Linked DNA regions of Homo sapiens: region 2 is linked to region 1. Evidence: fine-mapped expression QTL. A gene starts in region 1. The other region holds a variant in brackets. All regions are shown on one strand. Distances are from middle to middle.

Region 1 (12,207 bases):
CACGCTCACTGGTGAAAGGCTAAAATCAAGAAATCCCCCTAAGATCAAGAACAAGAGAAGGATGTCTGCTTTCACCACTGCCACTCAACATTATACTGAAAGTTCTAGCCAGAGCAATTAGGCAAGAAAAATAAATAAAAATCATTCAAATTGGAAAGAAAGACGTAAAACTATTTCTATTCACAGTTGACATGATCCTATGTATAGAAAATCCCAAAGAATCCAGAAACAAAAAAGCTACTAGAGCTAATAAATTCAGCAAAATTGCAAGGGACAAGATCAACACACAAAAATCAGCTGTGTTTCTACACACCAGTAATACACAAGCCAAAAAGGAAATTAAGAAACAATTCCATTTATGAAAGCTTTCAGAGCATCTGAGGATTGGATATCAGAACAGTCTTGCAGTCTTTTGAAGTGGAATCATCTTGTTAGTAACGGTCCTTGGCAGAGGCACATGCATCAGAGCCTTTAATTTTATATGCATATTAGTGCATCTCATATTAAAATTAAGTAGAGCAAATAGATTTGATGGGGTGGTAGTGTGAACTGCACAGGACATGTGTAAGAACCTGAACCACATCCACAGGCAGGTCAGAGTGGCCTGGGTCTCAGCCATCCTGCCTCGCTTCACGTCTCAAGAGTCACAGGATGCTGGGAAGCAAAATCGCAGGCCTCTCGGAGGAAATCAGGCCTGAGTCAGCCTTCCCAGGAGGTTAAGGGAACAGATGAGGCCCAGGAAACGGTTTACTGTGGAGGGTGTTTTTCGCTAGACTAGTTGGAGGGGTATTTTTAAGTTGAAGAAGGAACTAAAAGTGTTTTTAATTATTATTTTTTGTGTGTGACTAGGGGCCAGAAAGACGAAGTGTTTGCCAAGTATTGCCACATTTCTTAGCTCTCCATGTTCCAGAGACTCGAAAAGTTGATAGATGCTTCCATCACAGAGATAGCTGTCTTGACCCTAATATGTTTCTGTTCCTCTCTCTAGCTAAGAGGTAAGTAACATCTGCTGAGATGGAAACGCTAGGAAGATAAAAATTCCCAGTGATTTGCTGAAAGGGAATGAGCCCTAAACTGAAAGCCAGGAGCCCTGCATTCTAGGCGGGCTTCTGCAGTACCCCAGTTGTGTAGCTCTGAGCCCATCCCTTCCCTTCAGTGGGCCTTGATTCTTGCCTGTAAAGGGGAGAAGAGCAGGGGTTGGGAGGAGTGGAGATCCTTTTAACTTTGACATTCTGGTTTTTCTTAAAGGCCAAACCCTTCAAGAAGTCAAAAGAACTTTAAAAGAAGAGGGAAGTGACACTGATTGGAAATAGGAAGGCAAAAATAGAGACAAATTGTAAAAGATGGATAGGAGATTTTTCTATTCTAGGCCACTCCTTTCTACTGGGCCCAAACTGAGTTGATACCAGAGGTTCACAGGGACTCAGGAGGGGGCTAGATTAGGCAAGAAAGGAAAAACAGCACTCCTTTAAAAAAAAGATGGAGTTTCACTCTTGGCCCCCAGGCTGGAGTGCAATGGCATGATCTCGGCTTACTGCAACCTCTGCCTCCCGGGTTCAAGCAATTCTCCTGTCTCAGCCTCACGAGTAGCTGGGATTACAGGCACCTGCCACCACACCCGGCTAATTTTCATATTTCTAGTTGAGACAGGGTTTCACCACGTTGTCCAGGCTGGTCTCGAACTCCTGACCTCAGGTGATCCGCCCCTCTTACGGGCATGAGCCACCGCACCTGGCCAAAACAGCATTCTTGTTTTCAGTTTCCCCAGGCCAAGGTTTATCAAAGAAGCCAGATCCCAGAAAAAGCCCAAATATTCAAAGCTTGCCTACTTACCCATGGGCAAATCAACATTTTTATGAACTGCTTTTGAGGGAAAAAGAAGTAGAGGGGGTCTGGGGGAGCAAATTAACTCCCAAAGAATGAATAAATGGCACTTAAATGAGATAGGAGGCCTTTGAATGCTACTTAGTTTTTCTCCCCAATTCTATTAGTTTGGCAAGCATCTATAAAGTGCCTACTGTGTGCTGAGTGTTGTGGGTGGTCAGATAGGGTGTTTGGCTGGAAGGTACTCACAGGAAGATAGGCATGTGCACAAACACCCAAATATCTAAAATACAAAGCATGGCACACTGACAATCAACAAAAACAAAAAATGCAAAGCAGAATGTGAGACCTGCCCCAAGGGAAATCAGATAAACTGCTGAAGAAGTTCAGATCAGGGGCTGTTCTCTTTCACCCGGAAATGGTGTTCTCTTTCACCTGGTGTTCTCTTTCACCTGGAAAGTTCAGGAAATAGACCCTAGGGGCTGGAGCCCAAATCTGAAAAACCTTCTTTATTCTTCCAACCGTAGCGATTTTTTCCTGGCTCCACTTTACAGAAGTGAAAACCAGGACAGAGACATGAGGAATTATTTGCTCTCTGATCATCCAGGTGGTTAGCAACACAGCCAGATAGAGAACTACAAACTGATGATTGAAAACTTCCCCTAAAAACTGATGGTGAAAGCACATACTACTAGGAAGCTCATCTTAGAAGACAAAATCCATAGAGCTGTTCCCTCTGTCTCCCTTCTTAGGTCAATCCCAAAGACACACCAACAAAAAGTCAAAGCAGGATTTAAAAAAATGTCATAAGCAAGCTGGAATCATATATATCTCTGGCCTAAAGGAAGCCAAGGTCTCTGCAGTGTCAGATCGTCAGATCCTCCTCCTGGGGAGGCCATTCTTTTTGCGAAGTCTCCAGTCCCATTACAAGTGAGTTGCCGGGGACTTCATGTAGGGGGAACAAGAGCTAGCCCACAGATGAAAACCCAGGCAAGCCCTCTGCTTTTGCACAGTGAACGAACGTGCCCACAGGCTTCTCAGCATTGAATTTGAACGAGCCAATGGTATCCCAATCATTGAAACAGGAAGCCAGATAAACAGCATGTTATCAAGGGGGGATCCAGCTCTTCCCTTAAGCCGGCGCCAGCTGCGCCCTGTGACTATCCTAACAAAGTCCCATTGACTCACCAGCTGATTTTCCTGTGTTCGGCTCCAGGGGACAAGGAACCCTCTCTGCCGGGTGGACGTCACCCCTACACACCGCCCCCGCCACCCGCCACTCGCGTCCTCTCCAGTTCCTGCCTCCCCTCTGCCCGCTGCAAACTTAGCTGCTTCTTTATCCTATGACCAGTTTTTATCGGCTCTGGGGATTAGCAGGGACCAGAGCCCAAGCCTCGGGAGCGCTCAGGTGAGCTCCCCGTGATCACCCAATTTCTGCGTTCTCCTCTCTCCCCTCTCCTCCGGGACCACTTTCTCCGCTCCCAGACGCACTGGGCGGGCGCCAGAGAGGACGGCCTCCGGGAGATTGGCGGGAGGGCGCTTCCCGGCGCATCCCGGGGGTGCGGGGAACGTTTTCTGGAACGGCCCGCGAGGTCACCTGCCCCAGCTGTTCCTCTGGCTCCTGCTGGGATGGGAGGAGTTAACTCTTGCTTCAACGAAAGGCAGAGGTGCGGGTAGGGTGTGTGCTTGCCGTGTGGGTGCGAGTATAAGAACGCAGCACCTGGTGTCTCATGATAAGATCTCAACGCACTTTAAATTGTGGGTATTTCACAACAAGGAAACTGAGGCTCAGAGGGACTGAAGTTAGGCAGCCCCCCCGGAGAGTCAACTCTAGAATCAAACGCGCAGTCAGTCCCATAGGGGTCGAAAGGGCACACACCTTCCCGGGAAGCCGCGAGCATCTTGGTTGTTATTTATTCCAGCGCCTCTCCCGAGCCCAGCCCACAGCCTCCCTCGGGCACCAACCTCCCCTACCCCGAGACTTGGTCTCGGCCTCGCAGGACCTGCCAGCCAAGCCTCGCAAAACGGGAAGCGCCAGACCCTCAGCGCCGCGACCGCGCGACCGCCCCGCGCCGGCCACTCACCGGAGCGCCTGCCCGCCCGGGCTCCGGGTCCGCGCCGCAGCCGCGCAGAGTCGCGCATCCCCAAGGGCAGCGCGGGTGCGGGGTCCGCTTCTCGCGAGCACAAAGTTTCCCGGGGCTCCCCAGGCCGCCTCGGCCCCTCGCACCAGGCTTGGCGTCCGCCGCGCACTCCAGCCTCGGGCCCCGCACTAGGGCAGCCGCCGGCCCCGGCCCCACAATGAGGAGGGAGGCGGCATCCTGAACAAAGTGCCGTCCCCTCGGGAACGGCGGCCGGGGCGGAGCCTCGTGACCCGCTGCCCCAGGCACACGCCGGCTGCCTCCACGGCGGGCCCAGGAGGGGAGTGCCTGGCGGCCGGGGGGCGGGCAGGAGGAGAGAATCCGTCCGATCGCCCTGGCTTTCCTCCCCCTGCACTGTGCCAGTTTAACCCGCAGAGGGGCGGAGGCATGGGTCCCTTCCAGACTTTGTCATTGGAAAGCTATTCCCGTAACCCTTTGCTGCCTTCGCCTTCCCGTCCCGCCTCCCAGGCTGGCCGCAGAAAGGCGGCTGCTCGGTGGCGGACCCGCGAGCTGGCAGGGCAGGAAGCCTTTGCACAATTGAGCCTTTCCTTTGCCCGGGGACCCGCCACCGCCACTTCCAGGCCGGGTTTCCTCCCTCCCCCACATGTCGTCCGGGTACCGCTCGCTGGTTCAGCCGCAGTTCTTTAGGAGAAGGGGACAGATGGATGGGCCAGCCTCTCCACCCGACTTCTGACCCCGGGCACCCACCTCCTTTCTTTCTCCACCCCACTGAACTGTCATGCTGTCTGAGCTGTCTTAGAGGAGGGGGAGGCCCCGCAAGTGCCCCGCAAATAGTAGGTGCTCAGTAAAATAAGTGACTTCTCCCCACCTTCCAGACAGCCGATGCCCCTCCTCCTTCTTCCAGGGACTTGGGAGTGGGAGGAGGGGGAAGAAGAGGAGAGAGGAAATGACAGGACCTGAGGAGAGTGAATGGGAGGAAGGCCCTCAGCCAGAACCTACTGCAGAAGCAGTGCAAGCCCCCTGCCTCCTGGCTTGGGGACTTCCAGGGTCTGCAGGAAGAAGGCAGAAGGAAGCCAGATGACCTGAGCTTTGAAGCAGGCTTTGGAAAGGGAGTAGCTGTGGCCAAGGACCCAGCAGATTCCCCTGCTCCTGCCAACAAATAAGAGGACTGATCTATTCCCAGGGCCATGGGGTTGCAAGTTGGAGGACTGATGGATAGAAAGCAAAACTGCCTACTCCCTGGGAGGTCTCACAGCTCTTTGCCAGCAAAATCAGTGTGAGCAGAGTCAGGATGAGAGCCCTTGAGTCCTCCCTGAACGCCCCACACAGTCAGTAAGGCCACAGTGGCTTTGAATTTGGAGAGATGAGACACCAGACAATGGACAAGCAGTGACATTCAAGAAGTTCCCAACTGATCAGGGAAAAAGATTTGTTGTATGATTTTTGTCCATGAAGGGAGTGAACTGCCTTTTGGCGCGGGATAAGGGGGTGGACTGCAGAGTGACACCCTTACCCTCTGTATAAAGACTAGAAGTGTGGGCTCTTAAGGCAGACTGCATGAGTTCAAATCCTGGATCAATGATTTTTTAGCCATGGGAACTTACTGAACTCTTTAACCTCTAGCTACCTCAGTTTCTTTATCTGTAAAATGGGATAATAATGGTTCCTATCTCCTAAGAGTGTTGGGAGGATTAAATGCGATACTATAGGTGACACACTTAGAATAGTGCTTGGCACATAGTAAATGCTCAGTGAACATTAGCTGTTACTTTGATCTTGGAGTAACTAACTCTTGGAGATCTAACTCTTGGAGATCTAACTCTTGGAGATGTAACTCTGCGCCCAGTTTGGCATTCAATGATGTGCTAGCTAGAATCCTTTTGTGCTCTTCCCAGTCCTGCAAAGGGGAGCCTAGTCCTTTAAGAAGAAGCACTGTCCTTTCTTGAGAGCTCAAAAGGTGGGACCCCAGGGACCAAGGACCACACAGTAGGTATGCAAATGACTATCAGAAGGTGAAATGACTCCTTGACCCATTGTGAGGCTGGATGCATAGCCCCCATCCACATTGGTAATGCTGGGATGATGTCATTCCTTGGGTGCTACCCAGAATGGAAAAGAAAGCCAAAGCTATAATTTCGTAAGGGTTAGATCTCTTCTATCAGTACACAGGATCAATATTTCTCTCCCACTTATGAGTGGCTGCTCATACAAGTTCTCCCTCACCCTGCTCCTAATGTCCCAATCAATATGGGTGACGGGATCATTTGTACCCCAAGCCTCAGCATCACACAATATACCCAGGTAACAAGCCTGCATATGTACCCCCTGAATCTAAAATAAAAATTCAGAAAAATGTCCCACTCACAGATTTCCAACAGTGAACCTGTATGTGTAGGCAAACATAATAGCATATGGACAGGTTGAGGGAGGAAGGAGTAAAGGGGCCAGTCTGGTTGGGGTGACAGGCAGAGGATATGAAAGCTACTGAAAGAGAAAGTGGATAGGACAGAGCGGCAGGGAGGAGAAGCCAGAAGAGACTCTGGACAGAGCACTGTTTGGGTAAGAAACAGGGTCCCGCCCATCCCAGAAGTGGCCTCTGCCAAATGCCTACTTTGTGAGTAGTTTTTGTCTGAACACAGTGATGACTCAGTTGCTCTGAGTCTAGCAAATGGATTTTCCTTAAATATGAAAATCAATAAGAGGTAAAGGCAAGGACCTCGCTGTGGGGAGGGGAGGATGGAGAGAGTGGGAGAGGTGCTGGGGCGTGAAATGATTTGTGAGTGATGGAAGGAGGGAGATTCAGGTTCACTGCAGGAGACCCTTGGCATAGTCACCTGTACCCCCACTCCCCACCGAGAAGGTGGCCTCCAGGACCTGCTGGCCTCACTGAGGCTCCTTAAAACCCAACAGCCCCTCTGTTCCCCTCCTCCACAGCTTAGAGCCAATCCTGCTTTGGGACAAGATGGGTAGCGAAAGGATTAATGTCAACCTGACAAATAAGTTTTAAAAAATCAGCCCAGAAGCTTGCTGTCACTCCCATAGAGTATCAGATCCGGCCTCCGACGAGATGAGAGTTTTGGGAACCCCAGGAAGTATGGCAAGTGACATTTTCAGCCCCAGCCTGATTTCTTTGGGGGCTTTGCCTGTTTTCCTGCCGCCTTGAGGTCTGTGGACCAATGCTAATTTGTTTCTTGGGTTATCTGACATGGGACTTTGAGGATTTGAACACACTCACAGCTCCTGCGTTCCACGTGGCCCACAGGGAGACTGTCTTTATCCTTCGGACTGTCTTGTTTGGGGCTCCCAGAGCAGTTTGTAAGGTCCTTGGCAGGAATATGAAGATAGCACATTGCTTTATTTTCTTGAGCACTTAATAAGCGTCACTGGAGCTTCTAAGGAGGAGTCCGAGGCAGCTTCTGACTTCCTCCTCTGAAGCACAGTGGAAAAACACTGGGCCCAGCTTCAGAAGACCTGACTCCATGCCTTGGTTCTGATGCTGGCTGAAGTGCATCACCTCAGTTTGCTCATCAGTAAAAGGGAGTGTTGACACCCAGAGGACAAGAATACCCACCTACCAAGGGCATGGTGAGTATTCAGTGAGATCATGGAGGAGAAAATGGTTTCTGCAGTGCTGCTCACATATAAGCAGAAGTGGGATTATCAAACAGAAAGCATCAGCTCATATTCCCAACCCCGCCCCACCTCCCCACCCCAGTCAAATTCACTGTGGTTATGGGCTCAGTGCTTGAAAACCCATTTTTCAGTGATAGAAATCTGACTGGCCACTAAAAATCCTTGTCCTTTCTAGCTTGATTCATTAACCAGTGAGGGGTTTCCTAGGCTAGTGGAATGGGGTTGGACATGGGCAAAACAGGCATCTCCATCCTTGGCCACTCGGGCCTCATGACTGGCCCTGGGCCCCCTTTAAGAAGGGCCCTCTGTGTTGACTGTTGGAGCTTACAGGGACCTGGGAGAAAGAGTCCATGGGGAAAAGCTGTCAGAGTAATGAATGTTTTACGAGAGTGAGCGAGTCACTGCCTTATCGGGAAGATGCTGTTTCTCACTCTCTCTCTGTTACCAGGAAGTGAGATGTACTGAAAGCCATCGTGGTGTTTTTCCAAAGATGGCCTTTGAAGAGGAGGTGTTTCTTTAAGGGGCCCAGGAGAATAGGGGTTGGGTTTGCAGGGAGAAAACCTGCCCCTTTAAGAAGCCTGGTTCTGGCTGTGGCAATCCTGTGGTATGGAAGATAATAATAGTCCCTACTTATATAGCATTTGCTGTGTGCCAACTGCTATGCTAAGCATTTAACATATATTAACCCATTTAATCTCCACAACAACCCTATGAAATCTGTACCACTTTTTATCTCCACTTTACAGGTAAAGAAATTGAGGTCAAGTGTCTTGTCTGGGTCTCAGCTAGTAAGTGATAGAGGTAGGATTTGAACTGAAGGAGTCTGGCTCCTGAGTCCATGTTTTCAAATACTACATATATGCAGAGGAAAGGAGTCTTGATAGTCTCCATAGCAGTGTGGAGAGCTTGATCATGTACTAGTTCAGCACATTTCTTTATTTCTTTTCAACAGCTTTATTGAGGTACAATTTACATATTATAAAATTCACCCACTCGAAATATACAACTCTAAATCTACAGAGTTCTGCAGCCATGACCAGAACCAAGTTTTAGAACATTTCCACCACCCCAAAAAGCTACCTTGTTCCCCATGCATGTTTTAAACTGAGTCTCAATTTTCTCAACTGTAAAATGGGAATAACAGTGCCTGCCTCATACGGTTGTTATGAGCATTAAATCAACATGTAAATGGCATAAGGTAATGGTCAACAAATGTTATCTATTATTATTACAGTCTCTTAGAGTCACTTAAATACAGACTTTTAGAGCTGGAAGTGGGAATGGTCTTAAAGACAATCTAATCAAACTCTCTCCTTTAACAGATAAAGAGATAACAGTGCCAAGATGTTAAGCAACTTGCCAATTAAGGACACAGTAAATTTAGTGGCAGAGCTGGGAATGAAACCCGGGTTTCTTGGTTGGTACTTCAGTCCTCTCTTATCTCCTGAGAGACTTTCCACTCGAGGCACAGGAATATCATTGTCCAATACCCCCTTCACCCCCCATCTTTGCCATCTTTGTGGGTGCCTCCAGAGCAATGCTGACTGGCAGGCATGGACCCTGGGACTTTGCTTGTGCTGGAATACATAGAGCTCTGGCTTTGGAGCAGGGAATGTGGCTGAGGAATGTTGGGTGCAGAATCAGGGGACCAGATCCAATGTGGAGGCTGAGACAGGAATGTCCATTGTCAGAACACGGAATGCATTAACTAAAAGAATCCAGGACACAGCCAGTCCAACGGTCAGCTAGTCTCTGCAGAGCCAGCTTCATGGGCATATGACCTGTGCAGTCACACGGGGGCTCAAGCTTAGAAAGGCCCCCTGCTTGGTTTAATGCTTTGTTGTTGCCATCTTGAAATTCACAATGATTTTTAACAAGAAATGTCACATTTTTATTTTGCACTGGATCTTGTAAATTATGTAGCTGGTTTTGCCCATGTGATAGCAGAGCTGCAGCCAGACTCTTAAGGCCCTAGCAAGGAATAGTGTCTCTCCACCCAGAACTTACTCACATGTAAACTCTATGTATAATACACAGTCATAGAGTCTTAATACCGAGCATTAGAAGAATCAAAGCCTGGGCAACATATGGAGAACCTGTCTCTACAAAAAATTTTATTAAAATATTAGCCAGACATGGTGGCACATGCCTGTTGTCTCAACTACTCAGGAGGCTGAGATAGGAGGATGGCTTGAGCCTGGGAGGTGGAGGGCGCAGTGAGCCATGATTGTGCCATTGCACTCCAGCCTGGGCAACAAAGTGAGACCCTGTCTGAAAACAAACAGAGAATAAAAGTTGTGAAACAATTTGCACATTATGATCCAATTTATGATGAAAGATGCCCCATTAAAGTATATCTTTCTATATGTACATATGCTTGTATGAAAGTATATTTTTTTAAGGTCTGGAAAAACACTTCAAACTGGCAGTCATCAAGGGAGTCATTAACTTTTTCTGTGTGTTTGAGTTTGTTTTTTACAAGGAGAATCTATTCATGTATTACATACATAATTATTAAAAAAGTGTAAGATACTCCTAATACATTCTGTAAGCATTTTCCTATATCAATAAATAGTCAGTAAATAGTCTTAAAATGCCAAGAAAAGGTGTCTTGAGAGGGGAAAGCAGAAGTAGGTGTCAAGAGGGACCCTGGAGAGTGGTAGACAGGGGCAAAGACTATTTCAGGCCATGACAGGGCCTGAGGGGAACAGGCTTGGATGTGAGGAAGGGAATACCGGGTGGGGGAACCCAGAGGTAGCTGGTGAGAGGGTGGGTGCTAGGTGTCAGCTCCGTTCAGATTTAGAGGCTGCGATGTCCACTTTGGTGAGGGTAGGGGAGGATGATAGGAGCTGGAAAAGGATGAATTGCCAAATACGACTGGAGGTAAAGGCTGTAGAGGTGAATCCAGCTGTGGTGAGAAATGGATGAGGTGGAGGTAGGCAGGTGATTCCCTGCAAGGGAGAAAGAATGGGGCTCAGATGTTGGATTTAACAGAGAATGGGAGATTTGAGGCAGTGTGGCCCAGTGGTCAGAGTGCAAGCTTTGGAGTCAGGACGGCAATCAAATCCCAGATTCACTGCATCCTAACTGTGTAACCTTGAATTCTCCTCTGGGAAACAGAAATGATCTTGATAATAGCTATGCAGTAGGGTTGCTGGGAAGATTTGATAAGATGATGGAGGTAAAGCATTGCATCCAGTGGCTGGCACAGACCCCCAAATCTTCCCCTTTTCTCTTTAATTGATTTTGTGGTTTGAGGCTCTTAAATGGCAAGAAATCATTTGCATGAATAAAGAGCCATTCTTCCAAGCACTTCCCTCCTAGTTTTCTGGGAGAGCCACTGGAAGCCAGGATTCAGAGTTCCATCCTGCAAAAGCTGAGCTGAGCTAGCCAGGAAGGAGGAGGAGCTGACTGTGGCCCAAGGGCTGGGAAGCAAGGCAGAAGGGGAGAATCCAGCCCTAATTCCCACGCTGCTGGTGCCAGTGAGGCTGACTGTGGGAAAACCTTGTCAGGGGTCACACTTTGGGATCTCTAGGAGCAAGGTGCTCTGTGAATGCTTATCTCAGATTCTCTCCACCCCTGGCCCTTTCAGTGCCCCCAGCCCAACTCCGGGGAGAGTATGAGTGACTGACAGGCCCTGCTGCAGCTGCAGCCTCCTCACTGTGGGTACAGATGTGCTCAGCAGCAGCTGTGACACGGAGCCCACACCTGTTCCCTAGATCAGCTGCTGTAACTGTACTCCTGGGAAAGCAGGCCAGGTGCTCAGGCCTTGCCAAAGCCAGGTCAGAAAGCAGGTGGAAAGTCGGGCATCTGCCTGTCATAGCAGCGGTGGAGGCTGCCTGGAAGGTCATGAGGCCCTGGGAGTCTCAGCTACAGACTGGGCTCCTCTTCCAGCCCACGCTTGTCCCCAGCTGTACGCCTCCCACAGGCCCTCTGTGGTTTCCTGACCCCCTCCCTGGGCACCACCACATTGGGGTGGGAGAGACTGAGGAGCTAGGAAGGAGGCGGGGAGTCTTGAATGGGATGCCTCTGGCCATCTGTTATTCTGGGCCTGTAAGCTGTAAAGTCAGGGGACTTGTCCTGGGAGGTGGGGGTGCCCTGGAGCTGAGCAGCAACAAGGACCGGAGGAGTCAAAGAGAACTGAGGCAGGGAGAGGCCAAGGATGAGGGTGCGTCTGGAAATGAGAGCAGGAGAGCCTCTTGCGTGGCTTTGGCTGTGGAGACCTTCGTTCCGGAGACTCTGGGCTGCCACGGGAGAATTCCACTAAGCATGTGTCGGGGGCAGGCCCGGGCAGGCGGCCGTGGGAGCGCTGCACACACTCTGCTCCAGGCCTTGGCCAGCTAAAGTGCCGCTCTGGGAGAGCCTGGATACCGGGTGAATCCAGAAATCCCAGGTCCCTGGGAAAATTTCAACAAGGCAACTCTGACACGCGTCCTCTGACACCCAGACCGACACAATATATTGCTCACGCCAATACACATAAAAACCTCCCGATAGAAAACCAGATGGTGAGTTGGCATTGCTGATGTCTGGATTCTACACCCACACCCCACATAGTGCTTATAAAGAACACACCCTCCACTCATCCAGCCCACCCCACTTTCAGGGAGAGGAATCTTGAGCCTGCGATGCTCATAATGATGCTAACGCC
Region 2 (12,207 bases), 180 kb before region 1:
CCCCGTCACCTCCATCAATCTGGGAGCTGTGCTGGGCAGGGGTCCTATCACTTCCCCTGTCTGGAAGCTCCCTAGGGTCTAGGGCTATGGTTCTTCTAACACATGGGGGACTTTCTAAAGACTCAGCCCCGCAGGGCTTGTGCCACCCTCTGCACCCTCCTGGGATTCTCAGAGGAGGGCAGTGACCTGACACTTCCTCAGGCAGTCCCTGGCAGCTTCCTAGGGCAGAGGCTGTGTGGAGCAGCTCCTCACACACCTTGGCTCTCCTTCCTGCCCAGCACAGGCCTCTGACCACAGAAGGAGCTCAGGATCTGTGCACTGCATGGCTTTTCTCTGGTCCCAGCTCCAGGCTGGTGGATCTGAGCGTGAGCGCGAGGTTGGGCTGGCCCCTGGGATTTAACAGGCAGTAAACAACTCCATTCATGCGTCAGTTGTTTTGCTCCAGAGCAGCCTCATCAGCTGGACAAGCCCTAACCAGATCCCTCCAAGTTCTCTGCAGGGGTGGAGATGGGGGTGGGGAACAGTGGATGGCCTGGAGCTTGGCTCTCGTCTTTTCCGAGGAGAGGCTACTTTCCACTCCCTTGAAGTCTGGGATTTTTATTGGGGAGAGGCAGGCCCTGGCAGTAAGATATTAAGTCCCTGAGAAGGAAGGGAAGGGATGCTGCTGCTACTTGTATGGCCCCTTGGCGGAGGAGGGCACCAGCAAACCAAGAAGGGAGAGTGAAAGTGGCAGTAGGCTAAGAGGTGCTCCAGAGAAGCTTCCAGAACCACTGCCTCTCTCCTGTCTCTGGGCTTGGAAGAGTTGGCCAGGATCCCCCTAAGCGCCCAGCACTTCATTCTTCCTATCCTCTCTTCTATCCTCCCAGACCAGGAGAGGACAGCAAGAATGAAGTGCTGGGGGCTTGGGGTCCTGGCCAACTCTTCCAAGGTTGGAAGGCATAGGCACAACTCTGTCAATTAAGGCAGAAAAATATAAGAAGATGAGGGTCCCTGCAGGGCAAAAGGCAGGAAAGAAGGATTTGACACGCTGGGTAGGGATTAGGAAGTTGCATGATTGGTAGAAGGTTTGCACAGGAAGAAACCCAAGGAGCAGACACTGAGGACCACAGGGGTCGGATAGGGAACTGAGGGGTTACGAACCCCTGGCAAAGGAAGTGGAGCTACTGCTGCTACTCACTGTTTGACTAGCGATTTCACCCACAAGCTCTCATTTTCTCTTCTTAGGTAGACAGATACGATGTTAATAACCTTTTTGGTTTTTTTTTTTTTTGCAAATGGGAAAGCAGATTTAGTTGTCCAGGGTCTACACAGAGTTCGCATAAGAGCTGGGAATAAAATGCTTTTCCAAGGCTCTTTGAGCCAGTTTATTGAGGGCAAAGAGCCAGGGAGGAGGGTGACAGAATGACAGCCACAGAGACCAATGAGAGGGAGGCGCCTTCATTGACCAATCAGCTCCTTGGATGTAGGCCCTGCCTACACCACACCCAAGTCTAGAATAAACCACATCGAATTTCAGAGGCAATCACAAAGTGTACACAGCACACTTTTGTGTACTTTCATAGCAGCACAGCAAACCAAAACCCGTTTTGGGTTCCACTCCACTTTTAAGGCGTCGCATCCCAGTGGTCTTTCCACCATCCTCCCCCGCCATCCAAGAAGCCCCTGCGCTTACCCGGTAGTGATGTCATCATCCTCCGTCATGGTCTTGCCCATGAGGTCACTGTCGCTCATGTAGCCGGACTTGAGGTCCACCTCATCCGAGTCCAGGGATTCGACCAGCTCCAGGCGGGAGATATGGCTGAGCTTGCTGGGGCTGCGCATGGGCATGGTGTGGGAGTAGTGGGCCCGTTCGCCGTGCATGTACCAGGCGGGCGTCCCCTCCGAGCGGCAGCTCCCACCCACAGAGGGCGCGTCACCAGCCTGCAGCCGCGGACTGGACTGGCCATAGCGCCATGACAGAGGGGACGAGCGGTTGGAGAGGCTGGACACGCTGCGTGGGTTGGCATCATCGCTGTCGTAGCAGGTCATCTCCAGGGAGCTGGGTGGAGAGCAGAAGGCACTACTTAGTCCTTGGCACAGCCGCCGTGTGCCCTGTCCCCTCACATGCACCCCAGCAATGCCTCCCCTCCACCCACAGGCCCTGTCACCTCCTCCCCACCTGCCCAAGCTCCACCTCCTCCATGAGGCCTCTGGTTGTGTGTTACCTTTGTGATACGTTATCTGTTTGACAAAGGAAATGATCTTAATTAAGTGGCTAGGGAAGAAATCCTGTATACTGTTAAGACCCTAGATTGTGTAATATGACCTAGGTTTGAATTCTTTTTTGGTATTGGTTAGTAAAGGAGCCCAAGGAAAGTAAATAACTAAAGCTTCAGTTTCCCCATCTGTACAATGGGGATAATGGCATAACATCTACCTTATAGAGTTGTAAGGATCACATATGTACAGACAGAACACAGTGCCTGGTATATGGAAGGGGTCAACAGACCTGGAGGCAAGTGGGAGAGACTGGTCACTTGAGCTTAGAAGGCCTTGGTCATTTTGTTAATGGTGTGTCCATCACCTCTCTTCTAGTAATTAGCTGAGGGCTAGCTGATTCCCAAACATCATATATAGGAAAGCTGAAGTAGAGTGCAGAGAGTATAGGAAAAGCTTTGGGAATCTGGGATGTATGGCAGGTCCCCAGTAAGACTGGTCCAAGCCACAGGCCTAGGGCAGCAGGGGAAATAAGCCTCCCCAGAGAATAGAAGCAGCCTTAACTGGACAAAGGAGAGGACACAGGGAACCAGACATGGGGGTGAAGCCAAATGTCCAGAGTCTCAAGCCTCAGGCCCTGCTAGACCAGGCCAAGGGAGCAATGCCCAGGTGAGTGCTGGATGGCCTGAGACTAGGGGAACCTGGGGGACTAGGGAAGGAGATAGGGCCAGGCGGGCTGCAGAGAGGAAATACAACTGGAATCTGGTTGAAGGGGTGGCTTGGACTTGGGTTCAGGCTGAGACCCATAATTCCATCTAGCCTAGCAGTGGGGCCAGCCCAAATCAGCCTCAGGCAGGGTCTCCATAACTTATCCTAATTAAGCCAGACAGGACTAAGTAAGCGAAACGGGGTTTGGTGGCCAAGAAAGCTGGGGCAACTGAGGCAATCTGTGGCTGGACATGAGTTACATGAGCCCAAGCAATCACTGCTCTGTGAACACATCCATTGCTTAGCCACTTTGGGGGCTGGAATGGGAGTGGGACATTGATTTTTCCATTCTGGTTTCTATCAAGTTCCTTGAAAAGAAGAAAAATTTCCAAAGTTGTCTCTATTGGACCTGAGAAAATACGGTCTTATTTTCTAACCAGCAGAACTTGAGGGATCCAAACGCTCTTGAAACTGAGTGTGCTGGGGTCCTGGCAGTAGTCCTGTGGGCAAGATGGGGGAGGCCCTGGCCAGTCAGGGCAATCAGTGGCAGCTGCTTCTGGCCCTCTGGAGGGCTTCCTGACCGTGTCCATGCCCAGCGGCTCCCCTCCTGGCCCTGCCAACTCTTTTTACTTATTTACTTATTTTTGAGACAGGGTCTCACTCTGTTGCCTAGGCTGGAGTGTAGTGGTGCAAACACGGCTCACTGCAGCCTTGACCTCCCGAGCTCAAGTGACCCTCCTGCCTCAGCCCCAAAGTAGCAGGGACGACAGGCACACATGAGCACATCTGGCTAATTTTTGTATTTTTTATAGAGATGGGGTTTTGCCATGTTGTCCAGGCTGGTCTTGAACTCCTGAACTCAAGCAATCCTCCCACCTCGGCCTCCCACAGTGCTGGGGTTACTGGCGTGAGCCACTGCACCCTGCTTCTGGCAGCCCTTTAGGAACCCCTTTGTGTTCTGCAGCTCTGCCTCATACAGTGTCTTGTTTCGGCTTCTAATTACTGTGGACCTAGACATCACATCTCCTTGGACAGAAACCGATGTGCCCCGAAGCCAGAGACTGTAGTGATGGTGCGACTTTGTCTGCCTTGCTCACTCACCACGGTATTTCAGCACTTTGCATGGCACCTGGCCTAGAGCTGGTGCTCTAGAATGAATCAAAGAGGAGCAAACCCACGATGGATGTGTGAGTAAAAAGCAAGGAAGTTCTCATCAGAAAACTCAGTCCAGCGCCCTGTGCAGTAAGTGCTTGATAAAAGCAAGCTGACCTTGACCATGGGATGAGACAGGGGAGGAAGAGGATGATGCTAACCATACTAAGAGGGTGGCGGGGATCTCCAGGGAAGCTGGTTTGGGTAGTTAGCCTACACCATGGTTATATACTAGTGTGGGAGTGAGGGCTGCACTCAGCATCTGGGTTCCTCAATTCTATTCCTGGCCTGCCCCTGTTTAGTTATTTGTACTAAAATTGCCTCTTCCCCTATTCCACAGCTCTCTCTTTTTTTTTCAGTTCCCCCAAACACATCTCTAGACATCTCTAGACTTAAGCTTGGTGAGGGGGATTCTAGCTCAGATCCTCAGTTCTTGAATTCCAGCCCTGCACCCACCCTTCAGGCTTGCCTTTCTCTGGGGAGGACACAGTTTCATTTCCTCTCCAGCCACAGTCTGACCCAGACTCTCCTCGCTGGGGGAAATGAACCAGTAGAAATTGAGGAAGCAGCACAGGAGTAAAGGCTTCTGAAAAGGAATGGAATCCAGTTATCCTGGGAGTTCCTGGGTGAAAACAGCCTTGCAGGAAGCACACACTGGACCATAAGCTCCGAGGATGAAGCTTGTGTGTGTTCTGGGGAGCCAGTGCCCAGCGCTGTGCCTGGCACACAGCTGGCATGGGTTCTGAGCATGCAGAGTACAGAACCTACCCTCATCAGCCAGCGTGACTCTGGCAGGTGCCTCCCTGCCCCCAGCCTCATTCTCTAACCCAGGGAGTATGTATATATCCTGTCTACTTCCAGGGCTAAGGGAAGGGCTCATTGATAGAAAGCCCTTTAAAAAGTAAAAGAGCCGGCAGGGCGTGGTGGCTCACACCTGTAATCCCAGCACTTTGGGTGGCCGAAGTGGGTGGATTACCTGAGGTCAGGAGTTCTAGACCAGCCTGGCCAACATGGTGAAACCCCATCTCTACTAAAAATACAAAAATTAGCCGGTGTGGTGGCACGCACCTGTAGTCCCAGCTACTTCAGAGGCTGAGGCAGAAGAATCGCTTGACCTGGGAGACAGAGGTTGCAGTGAGCTGAGATCATGCCAAGGCACTCCAGCCTGGGAGACAGTGAGACTCTGTCTCAAAAAAAAAAAAAAAAGAGCCATAAAAAGTCAGGGAATCATTGTTTTGGCTACCAGTGTGGAACAGGAATAATATAAACCAAAGCCTA[T/C]GAGAGGAAGTGGCTCTAGGTCCACAGTAAACAGAAAAACCAGCTCCGGGGCTCTTGGTTCCTTTCCTATAAAGGGAGGCAGAAGCCAGAGGCCCTAGACGCTCCCCCTAAACCAGTCAGCATTATGCAAAAGGCTTGATTGAAGCCTCCCCTTTCCCACTAGAAGCAGAAAACCAATAGCGCCTGCCTAGGGTCAAGCTGTCCGGCTTAACGGAGGGACTGGGGGCTGGCTGCTCTGAGTCAGTGGCACCAGGAGGCTGGAGCTGCTACTTCTCTCCTACTCCTGTGAGTGAGTCATTTGGGGTGTGGCCCTCTCAGCAACTAAGCACTTTCTGGTGTCTTTGGCATGAGGCTGGTGGGTGACTTGGTGCTGAGAGATGTTCCAACAATTTCCTTGGATGGGGGAAGGCAGATGTCCAAGATTTCATCCGCTGGGTCCTAAACTGATAAGCCAAGCTCTGCCAGATCCCTGCTTCACTTGGGCTCCTGCTGGGGGCTTGGGGCTATGAGGGATGGCAGTAAGGGACAGATGTAAGGGGGTCCTGGAGCCCCCACCATCCACCTTTTTCCAGGACTTCCTTGGTCACCTCCCTTTCAGTAGTCAGGGTTCTGCTGGCCTGAGCAGAGGTAATCCCCAGAGAGTTTTGATTTATCTTACCATTTAAAATACTCGAGATGTCTGGGAGTAAAGGGCTGAGTGTCCAAGATGCGGGCATGGGCTGGGGATAGGGGGAGGAGTAGTACAAGGAAGGAGAAGGAGAAGGGTCATCTAAGCAGGAAGAACTACAGCCAACGGCTGAAAGCTACTTAAGACTAAGTGCAGTTCCACATCAGAGTTGCTGCAATCCCACAATGCACCGGGGTGACTGAAAGGTAGTGAGTTGGCCGGGCGCGGTGGCTCACGCCTGTAATCCCAGCACTTTGGGAGGCCAAGGCGTGTGGATCACTTGAGGCCAGGAGTTTGAGACTGGCCTGGCCAACATGGTGAAACCCCATCTCTACTAAAAATACAAAAATTAGCTGGGCGTGATGGCACACAGCTGTAATCCCAGCTACTCGGGAGGCTGAGGCAGTGGGCGACAGAATGAGACTCGGTCTTTAAAAATAATAACAAAATATTTTTAAAAAGCCTATGTTAAAAATAAAAAAAGAAAGGTAATGAGTTCTTTGTCATTGGTGGTATGTAAATATGTCCATGGGTGTGGTCCCATCCTCAGAATCCCAAATGGCCACACCCTGGGCTAAAGAAAGTCCTTTTCCACTGCCCCTGTGTCCCAACTTTGCTCTTAATTTTCCAGCCCCAGGAGTTGGAGAGGAATCTACTTCCAGTCTAACTGGGGAGGCTTCCTAGCCCTCACACAGCCTTCCTGCCCCACACCCCCCATGATTTCCCAATCTGGCTGTCTGTTCTGCCTCCCGCTGTCCCCAGAGCTTAGCCCAGCCCTCTGCCCCACTTGGAGCTGACAGCATGAGCTCATCTGGGCAGTCCAAGGAGCCAGCAAGGGAAATTCTGAGTCACAGCAGAGCCTGTGGCCAGGACTTTGCTCCAGAGAGAGGTGCCGTGGGAAGGCTGAGTGCCCCATGCAGCTGGAGGCTATGAGGTCTCTGCAGGGAGTGGGCTAGGGGGACACACCTAACAGGGCATGGAGCTGGGTGACACTGTGTGGGCCCTGTTGAGCACTCAAGCCTCCCTCAGTGGCTCGTAGAAGAGGCCAGGGGGCACCTAACTGACACAAGAGTGAAAAGACCCAGGTGTTGAGAAGGGAATTGATTCTAGACCCCTAGTTTAATGGAGACTTAGGAACAGGAAGAGAGCATTTAGTAAACCTTCTCTTGACAGATTGAGGAGACAGAGGTCTAATGAAGGAGACTGACTATCAAAGATCACACATTGAGCTGTGTAATGGCTTCCACTTCCTGGCTCCTAAGCTAGTGATTTTCAAGCTGATTTGCTGAAATGAAATGAAATGTTCAGGCACAAGCAGACAGAAGACAAAGCCAAGCTTCTCTTGTTGAGATAAATGGATTTCCTCCTCCTTCTGCAGTGGCTCCACGCATCAGGCCACCTGGCTGACCTGGCAGAGGTGTGGAGGGACCCGGGGGCCCTGCCCTCCAGAATGGGGTGGAGAGCCAGGAAGGCAGAGGGCATGACCCTCTCTGCAGCTCGAGCTTACCTGTGAGTCACCTGGGACCCTCGCAGGCTGGACATGGTCTCTTCCAGGTTCTGCCGGAGATCCAGGACATTCTGCACTGTCCTCTTTCTCTGGGACTCTGGGTCTGGTAGGGAGAGAAGGAAGAGCTGGGTGAGTGAAGAGAACTTAATGCTGGGATCCTGGGGGTCAGGAAGTGGAGATTGACAGTGTCCCCAGGAGGCTAGTCCCTGGGCCATGATAGTCACCTTCCTCCTCCCTTTCCCAAAGACAACCAACAGAATGGGCCCTCTCAAAGGCCCTGGACATGTGCCATTGAGCCCTCTGAACCCCAGATCCTGGCAGGGGGTACAGGCATGGCTTTCTGTGTCTGTGCACTCCTTTCAGAGCCCCCAAGGAACTGCCTCTACCTCTGGCTTTGTTTTGGGGAGGCCCTGCTTCTCATAGCAGAGGTCCTGGGCAAGATTTCTCGTGGTTGAGATGAGCTGGAACATCTGCCTGAAACCCCCTATCCAGGGTTGTGCTGGTAAATGTTTAACAACTGGCTTTCGGAGGAAGGGGACACCGATGTGTGGTGTTTGCCAATTTCCCTGGTATAAAGCCTCCTATCATGGCCACTTTCAATCTACCAATCTGATGTCACTGACCACAGAGTTAGGAAGAGGGGCTAACAATTGGCTCTGGGGAACTGGTACAAGCTGGCTTCAGTACACCTAAACCCAGGCACTGACTGGTAATATCTGGGGTTGCTCTATGGGGTCCCAGGAAGTTAGTTCAGATATAGTCTCCTAAAGGTGAGGTGGCTGGTGGGAGGTGGAAGGGATGAGCAGTCATTTTCTGGAGCTTGAAGTGAGCTCTGGGCAGTCCCCACACAAGTGGTGCAATCCTGAGTGAGAAGGATGCATGGGTGTGGCCCAATCCTCAGAATCCCAAATCACCAAGAGCCATTGTATTCAACCCTGGTGTCCAGATATTAGCCTGGACGGATGAGAATCTACAACAGCAAACAGGGTGAAAATAACGTCCAAATGACTGAGAGGTGCTTGAGCATGAAGGAACTCAAAGAATGTTCTTCCTTCCTTCAGTTCATCCAATGAATCTTTATCAAGCACTTACTTCACATCAGGCACCACCCTGGGCCCTAAGGACAGTATAATGAAGAGAAGCTGGCCCTGCCCCATGGCTTATCTTTCATTTTGGAACCTAAAGTCATGAATGGAACCAAGTCCCCCAGTACCTCCCTAAAAGACAATCTGCAGGAGAGAGTCAGGGAGTGACAGAAAGATGATGGCAAAACAACAGAGAAAACCCAAGAACTCTGGCTCTCCAGGCTGCTCCCTTTTCCCCTCCATCCGCAAGCCTTCTGCCGCTGCTGCAGAGGCCAAACGCCCCCTCAGTCCCTCCTCAGCCCACAGACTCAGCAGGAGTGTAAGGTTTTTTTTAGCTGCCAAAGGGAACATTTCTGAATCTCTTCAAGAGGTTTTTATTCCCCCAAGACTAAGCTCAGGCCGGCTGGCAGGCAGCTGCTTGACTGTCTTGTCAGGGAGGGGAGGCTGGGTGGGGCGGGCAGGGAGCCTGCAATGCCCTCTCCAGAGCCTTTTGGGCACCTTTTCTGAGAACCAGCTCCACACCCAAGCCCAGCCATCCCTCCTTTCCCCTCCCAGGGGGAGCTTCTCCACCCCCACATCCTCTCATGGTCAGCACCATGAATCCAGGCCTCCATGCTGGTGGCAAGGATCAGGGACAAATGGCAGGCCACCATGCCAGTGGCCTAAGCTCTATCCCCAGTCCTGGCATCACTTCCGTGGCCGCCAATGCCTATTTATCCTGGCAAGTGTCACCTTGTAAGCTGCTCCATGGCTTTAATTGATGGCTTGGCATGAAACACAGACAGGGTCAATTTTTTAGACTCGCCAAGAAATAAAGTTGAATTCTAAAATGCCTATGTGGGGACTAAGAACATGGTGCCAAGGTGTGGGTTTCTGGCCCAGGGTGATGCTTTTTATGGGCTTGGCAGACATGAGGGACAGGCACACACATCTCCAAGGGGTGTGTATTCCCAAAGAGGAAGGTGATCAAGAGTTACTCAGAGACTTCTGTGTGTGCCAGACCCTTTGCATGCATTATCTACTTGAATCCTTGCAACATTTCTGGGAGATTTGTGCTACTGCCCCATTTAACAGATGAGAAAACTGACACTCAGAGAGAACAAGTAAACTGCCCAAGGTCACACACCTAGCATGTAGCACAAGGCAGAGTTGAGCCCAGGAAGAAACTCATACTTGTCTTGATATATCACAGGGCATCTCTGCACCACTAGCATCAAGCATGGTGACTGTTGTATAGGAGGCGCTTAGGCTGCAAGCAGTGGCTCATGCCTATAATCCCAGCACTGTGGGAGACCGAGGCCAGAGGATCGCTTCAGGCCAGGAGTTTGAGACCAGCCTGGGCAACACAGGGAGATCCTGTCTATATAAAAAATAAAAATAAAAAAATTGGCCAGGTGGCTCAAGCCTGTAATACTAGCTACTTGGGAGGCTGAGGCAGGAAGATCACTTGAGCCCAAGAGTTCAATGCTGTAATGAACTATGATCACACCACTATACTCTAGCCTGGGCAACAGAGTGAGACCCTGTTTCAAAAAAAAAAACAAAGAAGATGCTTAGTGAACATTTCAAGAATGGATGCTACCACAATTTTTTAAAATTTCCAAAAACCCATGAAAAAAAGTAAAGGGATACATACATGTCACGTTAGGAAAATGTCTTTTTTTTTTTTTTTTAAGGAAAAATGTTTAAACCACACAGTAGCCTCAGGAGAGTCATGCTGCATTCCCTAATGCCCCAGATGCTCCAGATGGGAGTCATAGACATCTAGGTCACAGGTTTGACCCTCTTTCTCCATATCTCTTCCCTCAAAGACCTCTATCCTAGCCCCTTCCTCAATTCCACATCAGCAGAGTGTGGTGGGACTATTTCAGAGTCTCCCAGAGTCGCCAAACCACAAGAGTCCTTGAAAGTCACTTAATCCTGCTGTGTCTCTGGAGAGCTGGGAGGCTGAGGTCCAGGAAGTAGGGACTAGCTGGAGATCACAGAGATGCGAATGGAAGAACACTTGACTCCAGGCAGCTTCCCCACAGGTATAGATTTGGGGCATACAGGGGAGGAGGTTAGGGCAGGGTTTGGTTTCCTTGGGGGTGACCAGGATCTGGTCTCTGCTACCAGGCTGGAGGGGCCCTGCAGAGGCTACACCCTGCAGCTCCCTCTGTGCCCCAGCAGTGGCCCCTGGTGGCCATCATGGGTATGCCGCTCTGCTTCTCCAAGGCTCAGCCCAGGGTGGGTCTGGAGGGTTGGGGCCCCTGGTAAGTCTGGCTTCCTCCACATTGCTAGGTGACAGACACATTCCCGGGGTGGTACAGCCACAGCTTCAGGCCAAGAGGACTTACCTGTGTACAAAAGAAAGGCCTCCAGAGCTCCAGAGGCTGCAGAGGGGGCCTAGGTTGAGGAGCCAATCTGACATTCACACCCATGACCCTGAAGGTGAATTTTTATATTTTAGCTTAAAAATATGAGTAAGTTACATTTCCAAGGGAATTTACTTCACCTCTCAACCCTCATCCATTCCTGATCTTCACCTTACCCCACCTCTGACCACCAACCCATAACTAAGCTTCACCCCTTTCTCACCATCTCCTGTGAGGGTGAGCATCCCGGATGGGGTGAAGGTATCTAGGGCTTCCGCTACTCTGTGATAATGAGAAAAGTAACCTAAAAGTTCAATGGTTTTTTTTTTTTTTTTGGAGACAGGGTCTTACTCTGTCTCCTGGGATGGAGTGGCATGATCACGCCTCACTGCAGGCTCAACTTCCCTGGTTTTGAGCGATTCTCCCACCTTAGCCTCCTGAGTAGCTGGGACTACAGGCATGCCCCATCACGCCTGGCTAATTTTTGCATTTTTAGTAGAGACGGGGTTTTGCCATGTTGCCCAAGCTGGTCTCGAACTTCTGAGCTCAAGCTATCCTTCTGACTCAGCCCCCCAAAGTGCTGGGATTACAGGTGTGTGCCATCGTGCCTGGCTAATGGCTTGTTTTATTGGCTAAGTTGAGATGCCCTGGAGGCTGCCTCCATGTGTCTCTGTCAAATGTTTTGCTCTGGGTGTGGGACAGGCCTGGGGACAAAACAGAGCCCAGACATGGCAAAGATGCAGAGGGAGTCTTGGTAGCCCATCCCCTTCCTCAATACCCCTAAGTGGAGGACGTGCTCAGAATACTCCCATCTTACGTGGCACCTTTGTGCAAATTAGAACAAGGTACTCTCCAGTCCAACCCACCTCTAGCCAGGTCCTAGTAGAGTACAGCGTTCTCCTTCACATGATACCAGCCAGGATGCCACCCTCCAAAACTTACTCTGGGGGCCTGGGAGTGCGTGCTGTCTTAGCTCCTACAGAACAGGGTCCAGCTGCAAGAGTGAAGTGTGTGTATGTGTGTGTGTGTGTGTGTGTGTGCGCGCAAGTAGGGTTTGAGGGGGGAAGGGGGCAGGTAGGGCTCCTAGCAGGCCCCAGGGCGACACCAAGGTCTATGGGGAGGAGCTCATGATGTTATCCTGGGCTGCCCTCCAAGCCTTTCCCTGAAAATGGAGCAACTGGGGAGAGAATGTGTGTGCTACTCAGGCTCAGAACAGATGCAAGTCTCTCCCAACCCAGCCATCACCACGGCAATTCACAG

Evidence for each region. PIP is the estimated chance that this variant, and not a neighbour inherited with it, causes the effect.
Region 2: its variant is fine-mapped to the expression of NAV1 in whole blood (INTERVAL, PIP 0.96).

Annotation. Positions count from the first base shown.
Region 1 is chr1:201,531,044-201,543,250 of GRCh38, reverse strand. NAV1 (neuron navigator 1) reads right to left here and starts at 4,124. Exons shown (of 34, transcript NM_001389617.1): 1 at 3,909-4,124. It overlaps LOC124904484 (a long non-coding RNA gene), which reads left to right and starts at 3,106. Exons shown (of 2, transcript XR_007066793.1): 1 at 3,106-3,232. CSRP1-AS1 (CSRP1 antisense RNA 1) reads right to left here. Exons shown (of 2, transcript NR_160747.1): 2 at 8,467-9,827.
Region 2 is chr1:201,708,221-201,720,427 of GRCh38, reverse strand. It overlaps NAV1 (neuron navigator 1), which reads right to left. Exons shown (of 34, transcript NM_001389617.1): 6 at 7,509-7,611; 7 at 1,673-2,038. All of the region lies in intron 2 of IPO9-AS1 (IPO9 antisense RNA 1), which reads left to right. MIR5191 (microRNA 5191) reads right to left here and starts at 920; the gene lies at 801-920. RefSeq lists enhancers at 158-804, 6,673-6,967, 6,811-7,499. The variant T/C (reference allele first, on the strand shown) is at 5,335.